Linked DNA regions of Homo sapiens: region 1 is linked to region 2. Evidence: fine-mapped expression QTL. A gene starts in region 2. The other region holds a variant in brackets. All regions are shown on one strand. Distances are between the middles of the regions.

Region 1 (5,384 bases), 56 kb after region 2:
ATGAAAAATAACAATTGTTGGGAGGATATAGAGAACTTGAAACCCTATGTATTGCTGGTGGCAATGTAAAATAATGTAGCTGCTATGGAAACGCTTGGCAGTTCCTCAAAAGTTAAACATCGACTTACACATGACCCAGAGTTCTATTCCTAGGTATATTCCAAATAGAACTGAGGATATACGCTCATATGGAAACTCATATATGATAATAAAAATCTATTATGTGTAATAGAAACAACATAAGTGTTCATCAACTGATGAATGGATAAACAAAATGTGGTATATCCATAAAATGAAATATATTCAGCCATAAAAATGGAGTACTGATACATGCTTCGACATGGATAAACCTAGAAAATGTTATGCTAAGTAAAAGAAGCCAGGCATAAAAGGCTCTAAGGGTAAGGGGAAATTGAAAGGGACTGTTTCTTTTAGGGGTGATGGAAATATTCTGAAATTAGATAATGGTGATGGTTTCACAATGCTGTAAATATACTAAGAATCATTGAATTGTATACTTTAAGTTGTTAAAATAGTGAATTTAAATGTTATGTGAATTTTATCTCAATAAAAATTTTTTCAAAAGAAAGAAAATACCTATAAAATTATATTTCATATTAATGCTTTACCCATCATTTCAACAGGGTAGGTGGTAGGCTATTTACCAGACCTGAATTGCATCATTAGGACTTCAGGCTATGAAAGAGAAAAGGGCTTTATTAGCTTTAAAAGCAAAATGAACCTGCAGAAATTCCTGATCAAATAAATGGTCAAATAGTTTGAAGAAATTGTCTGAGTTAGTCATTTTGCTGAAATGGTAGATTAACTCTTACATTCAGTGGTGATAAGTTTTTAATTGGGATGCCACTTGACTGGTGCAGCTCTAGCACCTTGAGTTCTCATGTAAGCAAAATGAAGCCCAACATAAATAATAAAATGAAACTAGAGACTTTACCAATCAGAAATTGCCAACGAACAGATTCTAACTGGAGACTTTATCAAGCAGAGATCAACAACTAACCTCTAATTATGGTCCTTCTATTCTGATCAACAAAATATATTTTGTTGTACTTCTTTATCAGCCAATAAAAGTTCATGGTCCACACTGCTGTGCTGGAGCTCTCTGAACCTCTTCTGTTTCCGAGAGGTACCTGATTCATGGATCATTCTTCACTTAAATAAACTCTGTTAAACTTGCATAATCATAGCTCACCGTAGGCTCAAACACTTGGGCTCAAGCAATCCTCCTGCCTCAGCCTCTCATATAGCTCTTACTACAGGCATGTGCCACCACACCCAGCTAACTTTTTAATTTTTCTAGAGATGGGGCCTCACTATGCTGCCCAGGCTAGCCTCAAATTCCTGGCCTCAAGTGATCCCCCCGCCTCAGTTTCTGGGAGTATATGGGTGAGTTATCGCATCCAGCTCAACTTTGTTAAATTTATTTTGTCTAAAGCTTTTCTTTTAACAGTGATCTTCCTGCAAAATGCACATATTTCTGAATTGCAAATGTCTTCCCACTTGTTCGATAAAAACTTAACAGGTCTTAATTCAAGATGGATTAAAGACTTAAATGTTAGACCGAAAACCATAAAAACCCTAGAACACCTAGGCAATACCATTCAGGACATAGGCATGGGCAAGGACTTCATGTCTAAAACACCAAAAGCAATGGCAACAAAAGCCAAAATTGACAAATGGGATCAATGAAACGAAAGAGCTTCTGCACAGCAAAAGAAACTACCATGAGAGTGAACAGGCAACCTACAGAATGGGAGAAAATTTTTGCGATCTACTCATCTGACAAAGGGCTAATATCCAGAATCCTCAAAGAACTCAAACAAATTTACAAGAAAAAAACAAACAACCCCATCAAAAAGTGGGTGAAGGATATGAATAGACACTTCTCAAAAGAAGACATGCAGCCAAAAGACACATGAAAAAAAGCTCATCATCACTGGCCATCAGAGAAATGCAAATCAAAACCACAATGAGATACCATCTCACACCAATTAGGATGGCGATCATTAAAAAGTCAGGAAACAACAGGTGCTAGAGGATGTGAAGAAATAGGAACACTTTTACACTGTTGGTGGGACTGTAAACTAGTTCAACCATTGTGGAAGTCAGTGTTGTGATTCCTCAGGGATCTAGAACTAGAAATACCATTTGACCCAGCCATCCCATTACTGGCTATATACCCAAAGGATTATAAATCATGCTGCTATAAAGACACATGCACACGTATGTTTATTGTGGCACTATTCACAATAGCAAAGACTTGGAACCAACCAAAATGTCCAACAATGATAGACTGGATTAAGAAAATGTGGCACATATACACCATGGACTACTATGCAGCCATAAAAAAGGATGAGTTCACGTCTTTTGTAGGGACATGGATGAAGCTGGAAACCATCATTCTCAGCAAACTGTCACAAGGACAAAAAACCAAACACCGCATGTTCTCACTCATAGGTGGGAATTGAACAATGAGAACACTTGGACACAGGAAGGGGAACATCACACACTGGGGCCTGTTGTGGGATGGGGGGAGTGGGGAGGGATAGCATTAGGAGATATACCTAATGTAAATGATGAGTTAATGGGTGCAGCACACCAACATGGCACATGTATACATATGTAAGAAACCTGCACGTTGTGCACATTAAAGTATAATAATAATAATAATAATAATAATAATAATAACTTAATAGGTCTGCTGTGCACTGTAAAACAGGAATAAGTAACCCAGGAAGCACAGGGCTCCTGATGGCCATGATGACAGAGCCCTGCCAGCAGACGTAGTTCAATATTCAAGTCCTGCTAAGGTTTTTAG[A/G]TCTAACTTGGGTTCTGTGATCTGAAAAGTGTTATAGCTACACCTCTAAGAAGCAATTAAGGGAAATTTGGAATAAGTGGGGAAAAGTAATCTTACTGCTTATCTATCAATAAAAACTTTAAAAAGGCAGCAAAAGGATTCCCCTTCCCAAATCTGCATCCTTCATCTCCTTCTCAATAGCAAAGACCTGTAGATTACAAGGAAAATTTGGAAACACTGCTTTGCTGCTTCTGAAGCACTTGTTTCTGGTGTCTCTAGCTTCTTTTCCTTGAGTATTCCTAGAAAGAGACTATAAAGGAATAGAAGGTTGGAAGAGATCAACTGGGGAGGCAGGGTGTAAAGGTATGTTGGAGAAAGCTGAAATAGTTCCCTCAGAATAATTTCTTAAGTAAAAGCAAAGCCACAGCTTTGTTAGGAAAGAACAGCTTTGTAAAAAATAAAATGGAGTATCTATATAAAAGAATATAGATAAAACTAAGAATTAATAAAGATAAAATAACTATGCATAAGAGAGCCTGTATATTGTGGTGTAAAATGCTAAGTAAAATAAAAGAAATAAAACTTTATGTAACTCTTTATTGTAACAAATAGTTTCTATTGTTCTAATTTCTCTTTCCGTAGCTGCTGTGGATACTTTATGCTAAAACTTTCCATATTTCACTTTCTGGGGTTTAATTACCAATAATTAAAATTTTTCTGCTTCATAAACAAAAATAAAGAGTTTTGGGGTTAAAAAAATGAGACAATCTCAGTCTGTGAAAGTGCCTACCAATCAGTCAGCAGCTTTGTTATCCTAAAGATGCAAAACAGTTGTTAATTAAGTACTTGATGAATTCTTAACTTTGCACAGTTAAGTCTTGATCTCAGGGTGGGTAATGGCCAAGGAAGTTCTTCAACTTAATATTACTTTTAAAGTGCTTTTCCCTTGTTCCCTTCTGGGTTAGTGGCCTCATTATTTGGCAAACTGCCTCACACAGAAACCTGGATGATATGGTTTGGCTGTCTTCCTACCCAAGTCTCATCTTGAATTCCCATGTGTTGTGGGAGGGCCTGGTGGGAGGTAATTGAATCATGGGGGCAGGTCTTTCCCATGCTGTTCCTGTGGTAGTGAATAAGTCTCATGAGATCTGATGGTTTTATAAGGGGGAGTTTCCCCAAACAAGCGCTCTCTTTGCCTGCTGTCATCCATGTAAGATGTGACTTGCTCCTCCTTATCTTCCACCATGATTGTGAGGCCTCCCCAGCCATGTGGAACTGTAAGTTCATGAAACCTTTTTTTTTGTAAATTGCCCAGTCTCGGGTATGTCTTGATCAGCAGTGTGAAAACAAACTAATATGGTAAAAATGGTATCAGTAGAGTGGAGCGCTGCAGAAAAGCCACCCAAAAATGAGGCATCAACTTTGGAACTGGGTAACAGGCAGAGGTTGGGACAGTTTGGAGGGCTCAGAAGAAGATGGGAAAATGTGGGCTGCGGTGGTCTCAGGTGGAGATGAAGAACTTGTTGGGAATTGGAGTGAAGGTGATTCTTGTTATGTTTTAGCAGAAAGACTGGTAGCATTTTGCCCCTGCCCCAGAGATTTGTGGAACTTTGAACTTGAGAATGATGATTTAAGGTATCTGGTGGAATAAATTTCTAAGCTGCTAAACATTCAAGAGGTGACATGGGTGCTGTTAAAGCCAATCAGTTTTAAAACAGAAACAGAGCATAAAAGTTTGGAAAATTTGCAGCCTGACAATGTGACAGAAAAGAAAATCCCATTTTCTGAGGAGAAATTCAAGCCAGCTGCATAAATTTGCATAAGTAACAAAGAGCCGAATGTTTATCACCAACACAATGGGGAAAATGTCTCCAGGACACGTCAGAGAACTTTGTAGCAGCCCCTCTCATCACAGACCTGGAGGTTTACGGGGTGGCGGGGGGGGAAGTGGTTTCATGGGCTGGGCCCAGGGTCCCTGTGCTGTGTGCAGTCTAGGGACCTGGTGCCCAGTGTCCCGGCTGCTCCAGCTGTGACTCAAAGGGGCCAAGGGACAGCTTGGGCTGTTGCTTCAGAGGGTGGTAGTCCCAAACCTTGGCAGCTTACATGTGGTGTTGAGCCACAGAAGCTAAGAATTGAGGTTTGGGAACCTCCACATAGATTTCAGAAGATGTATGGAAACACCTGGATGCTCAGGCAGAAGTTTGCTGCAGGGGCAGGGCTCTCATGGAGAACCTCTGTTAGGGCAGTGCAGAGGGAAATGTGGGATGGGGGCCCCCACACAGAGTCCCTACTGGGGCACCACCAAGTGGAGCTATGAGAAGAAGGCCACTGTCCTCCAGACCCCAGAGTGGTAGCTCCACTGACAGCTTACACCATGGTCCTGGAAAAGCCACAGACACTCAACACCAGCCTGTGAAAGCACCCAGGAGGAGGGCTATACCCTGCAAAGCTACAGGGATGGAGCTGCCCGAGGACCATGGGCGCCCACCTCTTTTTTTTTTTTTCAGGTGGAGTCTCGCTCTGTCACAAGGCTGGAGTGCAGTGGCACAATCTCGGCTCACTGCAA
Region 2 (5,384 bases):
AAAAAGCTAAGTAGTATAGCCTTAATCATAGCCAGGCCTGACAGTGGTCATGGCTTCTCTTCTAGAGAGGCCACTGCACCCCTCGTGACCTGAAATGTGACAGAAGATGTGTTCTGGGCCTCTTGGTTCCATTTCTGGAGAAGCATACAAATGCCTCCATTAAGCTGGGGACCTCACAAAGGACAGATAGTTATCAGTTTTGTTGGTGCATTAACCAAGAATTTGGGTTGTATTAAAAGTAATTTGATAAAGTCTTTGGTCACAATAGTCACAATAATTGAAGATAAAGTCTAGGACCTTGGGGAGACATGGCTGGAAACTTTGTTATGAGTTTATTTTTTTTAACTGATAACATTTCCTATAATGCATTATTTCCTAAAATGGTAAGAGTTATATTATCCAAAGTTTGCATTCCCATGTGGAAAGCTGGTTGAGAAGCATTGGAAAATTATAGGACCATCATTACAAGTCCAGAATGAGGAATTTGATGGGTTGACAATCTAGTTTGGTATGGTTTCTGAACTGCTCATACTTTGCTATAGAATACCTGAGGGGCTGGACTAGGCCAGGAGAGGAAATCCTGCTTAAGAGAAGCCAGAATTCTGGCCAGTCACGGCGGCTCACTTCTGTAATCACAGCACTTTGAGAGGCTGAGGCAGGAGGATCACTTGAGGCCAGGACATCAAGACCAGCCTAGGCACCATAGCAAGACCCTGCTTCCACAAAAGAAATTATTTAAAAAGCTGGGTGAGATGGCATGTGCCTGTGTACCTGGGAGGTGGAGGTGGGAGGATTGCTTGAGCCCAGAATTTGAAGCTGCAGTCAGCTATGATCCTGCCACTGCACTCCAGCCTGGGTGACAGAGTGATAATTTAAAAACCCTGTCTCTAAAAATTTAATGAATTAAAATTTTTTAAAAATAAGAAGCCAGAAACCTAGAACTAGAGAAATAGTAAATACGAAGCATCAGGACCAGATGAAGTAAAGCGATAAATTTTGAAAACAGTCAAATTAATGATAAGACAACCTGGAATAGATCCAGAAATAGGGTACAAAAGGGCTTGGGGTCAAAGGCTCAAGAAGGGGGGCATGAAAATGAAAGAGCCCTGGAAGTTTGCTTTCTGTGATGCTAGTGGAGAATGCTGAATAAAGTGAAGGAAGCAGACCTGGGTCCACAGTGAATCCTTCTGGATTTATACAGTGTTAGAATCCCAAAAATGTTTGAGAGCTGCAGGCCTTGGAACTCCTCCAGCTCAACCATCTCAATTTACAGATGAAAAAGCGGAGGCCCAGGGCACACAGCTATTTAGTGTCAGGCGGAATTCCCATTCTGAGTTCTGGACTTTCTCTGTGACTTCTCCACACTCCATCTGACTAGCAAACTTTTTAGTTCCACGTCTAATGCAGCAGCTACTATATGCCAGGCCCTGTGGTAGATGGTGGTGATTCAAAGATGCATATGACTATTATGATCTAATTGGTGACAGAGAGCTTCAGAACTAATTCTAACTGGTAAAAATTACCAATAGATTTTAATATATGGGTAAATGCTTATGTTAACAATGCTAAATGAGAAAACAGCAATGAAATTGTATATATAGTTGGCCCTTGGACACATATTTGAACTGCACAGGTCCACTTATACACAGATTTTTTTTTTCACCCAAAAGCGGATAGAAAACAGTATTTTCAGGCAGAAATGCTTAAACAGAGGGCAGACTTTTCCTATACGCGGGTTCCCCAGGGCCCACAGCTGGACTTGGACTTGAATATGGGATGATTTTAGTATGGGGGGGCGGAGGGGAAGAGGGCCTGGAACTAGTCCGTTGAGTATAACGAGGGACAATGCTAAGTATGTTATAATCTCATTAAAAGTACACAGAACTTGAGATACGCAATAACCTACTAACGAACCAAGTGTTACAAGACATGCTAAGACCTTGTGTTGTAAGTACTTGTGCACTTACTCGATCTCCCTGCTTTAGGGCCAGGACCGAGTTTTTTTGTTTTTGTTTTTGTTTTTGTTTATGTATTCTCTCGTTGTATCAGTTCATCTTGCCCCAGACCTGTCACCCACTAGAATTTGTTGTTAAACAAATGAAGCTTCCTTTCTCATGTGGCCCCCACCCCTCTCCTAAAGGAGAATAAAAGGTCGAGAGAACGGATGAGGTTAGAATGCTGGTGGGACTGAGATGGGAAAGGACCTTAAAGGTTACTCGCCCAAAGAGGAAAACCAGCCTTTTCCCTGCAGACGGAAACTGACGCGCTCCCCCTGGAGGCAGCGCAGGATGCTCCCGGGGGTCCAGGCGTCCCAGCCTGAGGTCCCCATCCTCGTGTGCAGCCTGGGCGCCTGGTACAAGTCGGGGTAACCCTGAGGCTTGTGCATCCAGAGAAGCTAGGTCCCCGGTGGAGACTAGCTTGGGATAAGGTTGGGGAGACGCCCTCCGTTCTTCTAGATGCCTGGGGTCTCAACAGCAAGCAGTGAGGAATGAGACTCTTAACTGAACAACTCCTGAGACTGTTAAAGGAGTGCATACTATTACAGGGACAGGCATCCCCTGTGAACCTACTCATGAATTTTTCCTAATGCTTAATTCAGCTTGGGGGCAGAAATGCTGGGGTGAGACACGGCCAGGTCCGCCCCGTTCCTCCAGGGAACTCCCCTCTCCGCCCTCCCTCTCCGTCTCCTCTTGCCCACCTCCTCCTCCTCCCCTCCCCCCACTCCATCCCACCGCGCCCGCCCCTCGTCATCGCCCCCTTTCCCCTCCCATCTCCCGGCCGTGGTGCGGCGCAGCTCTCTCCCCCTCCGCAGTCTCAGTGGCGAGCTCTGGGTGCTGTGGCCCGGCCTTGGCGGGGCGGCCTCCGGCTCAGGCTGGCTGAGAGGCTCCCAGCTGCAGCGTCCCCGCCCGCCTCCTCGGGAGCTCTGATCTCAGCTGACAGTGCCCTCGGGGACCAAACAAGCCTGGCAGGTAAAGATGAAGCTCCCCAAACCCAACAACCTTAGAACTTAGAAATTTCCCTGAGAAAGGCAGGACCTACCCGAGGAGAGCTTCTTTGAAGGACTTTGAAGAAAGGGATCAAACTTGACACTTTCTTTCAGTCCTCAAAGAAACTAACCACCCTTCCCATAGGCAATTCTGTGTGCCGGCCTCTGCACAGTTTAATATTAACGACAACAATGTTTGCATTGGAATATAAATGGAATTCTTTCTGCTTAAGCAGTACCAGAGGGGACCCTCTTTATTTTTATGATTGTTAACAGATGCCATTGAGAAAGGTATGAAACGCATTCCTGAAAAGTCTCTTTGGCGGGGTTACTATGAAAGCTAGCCTCTCCCCTCTACCCTTTTATCAACTTGGCTGCGGAGGTCAGCAAAAGGAGCATAGGAAAACGTTTAGAAAATGAGGCGGCGAAATGAAGTAGAAAAGCTTTTGACTTGCTTTGAAATACTCTAGCTGAAAAAAAAAAGTGTGTGGGGTGGTGATGGTGGATGAAACATTGGCAAAATATTGACAATAGTTGAAGCTGGTGATGTGCACATGGGGGTTGTACTTTTCTCTCAACTTAATACTTTTCTCTGTGCTTTTGTGTAGTCTTGAAATTTTCTATAATAAAAGGTTTTTTAAAAAGTTGTAGAAACACTCCCGCTTGATTGCTCTGACATTTTTACACTGTCCTTGATTTGAAAAGAAGCTGCTTGCTGTGTCTAGGGGGCTTTCACCCCTTATTAACCCTTCTGACTTCTGAAATTCATTCTTATTTTATCCGAAGTACATTTGTCTCCACAGAGGATTATAAAAGTCATATTTTGCTGGCTGGAGAATTATACTTAGAATCTGGTTTATAATTTAGAAGAGAGAATGTTAAAATCCCTGCCAAATAAGACATGTAGGCTTGAAGGTAGAGGCCAAGTATCATATGGAATTTTATTTTTATTAGGAAATATTAGAGGAGTTCCTTTAGTGAGGGAAGTGGTAGATGTGGATACTGTACCCCATTTTTCTTCCAGATAGCTGGGAAAACTGCATGCTTTTAAGAAGCTTTTTCACGTTTTAAAATGTGAGACTGTTTAGCATATACTTGGCATACAGTATGTGTTCATTAGATGTTAAAATAAGCAATTGCTAGTGTGAGTTAATTTTCTCCATTGGGTAAATGATTTTCCTCTGCCCAATGCTCAAATATCAAACAAGCATATTGCATTTTAACAGTAGGATCAGACTCAGAATTTGGGAGGATAGAGCTACTTTACCTTAGCACTGAGGTAACTTTGCAGATGAGAAATCTGAGATGGAGAGGTTAGGAAACAGTAAAGTTAAGTTAGTAGTATGCAAGCTATTATTTTATAACTAAAAAACGTTAAGCTTCGTATAGGTAAAACTGATGTGGGTTAGCTAAAAACATTGTGACCATAGATGCTTTAAAACCTGAAAAGTAGCATACCTATTTATAGATATTCTTTGCTCTCAAAGGCCAACTTGAAAAATACAGATAAGTCTAGAGCTATATGCTGTGCACTTCATAAGGCAGCATATGAAAGAGTCCTCTTGGGGTTCCTTTAATGTCATTCACCCAAAATTTGATTTATCCATAGGATTGCACAAATTGAGATGTACAGGTCATGGAAAAATAGCCCCCAAACAAAGGGAGGTTTTGTTTTTTATTGTGATGAGAAACAGAAGTTGTGGGTTACTGTAAAATAATCAACTGTGTAACTTTACCATCTTCCTTTCCCTCAAGTACTGCCAAACTTTTTAAGCAGACATTTTTTTGGTCTCCATTTATGAAACTAAACTTGAAAATAGTGCTATGGTATGATATTTTGAATAGAAATTGGCCCACTGTCAATGAACTTTCTTGCCATTTATTCTCAGCCTAGAATCAGTGGAGAGCTTATCCTTTAGTAATGGATTATAAAGTATTTGATAAACGTGAAATATTTGGCAGGTTCAAGATTTTCCTTAGCATTGAAATAAATTGTGGCACATTTGGGGGACTAGTTAACAGTGCTGTAGGTCATGCTGGAAGTGTGCTGGCACTACAACTGTTTTTGAAAAACTATCTGCCAGAAAATTGTCTGACTGTAGACAGCATTATCAGCCCTCAGTTCATCAGGATGGGCTCTGTGGCCTGTAGGTAGGTGGGTTTTCTAAATATAATAAATTTCATATGTCTCCCTATGTCACAGCCATTTAGTATATTATTAGCCAGTTAAAAGTTTTGCCCCTGCTGAATCTTACATGCTTTTAAAATAAAATCTATTTCACAGCTGAGTAAGTGTAAACATTTTAAATACCTGCGTTAGATTTGCCATCACCAGGCTAATTTTGCCATCTAGTGGTAGCAACATGGATAACAGGCAAGTTCTTCCCTGGATGACTAG

Evidence for each region. PIP is the estimated chance that this variant, and not a neighbour inherited with it, causes the effect.
Region 1: its variant is fine-mapped to the expression of PRSS35 in lung (TOPMed, PIP above 0.99).

The regions. Positions count from the first base shown.
Region 1 is chr6:83,565,802-83,571,185 of GRCh38, forward strand. All of the region lies in intron 26 of SNAP91 (synaptosome associated protein 91), which reads right to left. Among named protein-coding and RNA genes, the nearest start is that of PRSS35, 56 kb to the left of the region's middle. The variant A/G (reference allele first, on the strand shown) is at 2,840.
Region 2 is chr6:83,509,726-83,515,109 of GRCh38, forward strand. It overlaps PRSS35 (serine protease 35), which reads left to right and starts at 2,809. Exons shown (of 2, transcript NM_153362.3): 1 at 2,809-2,969.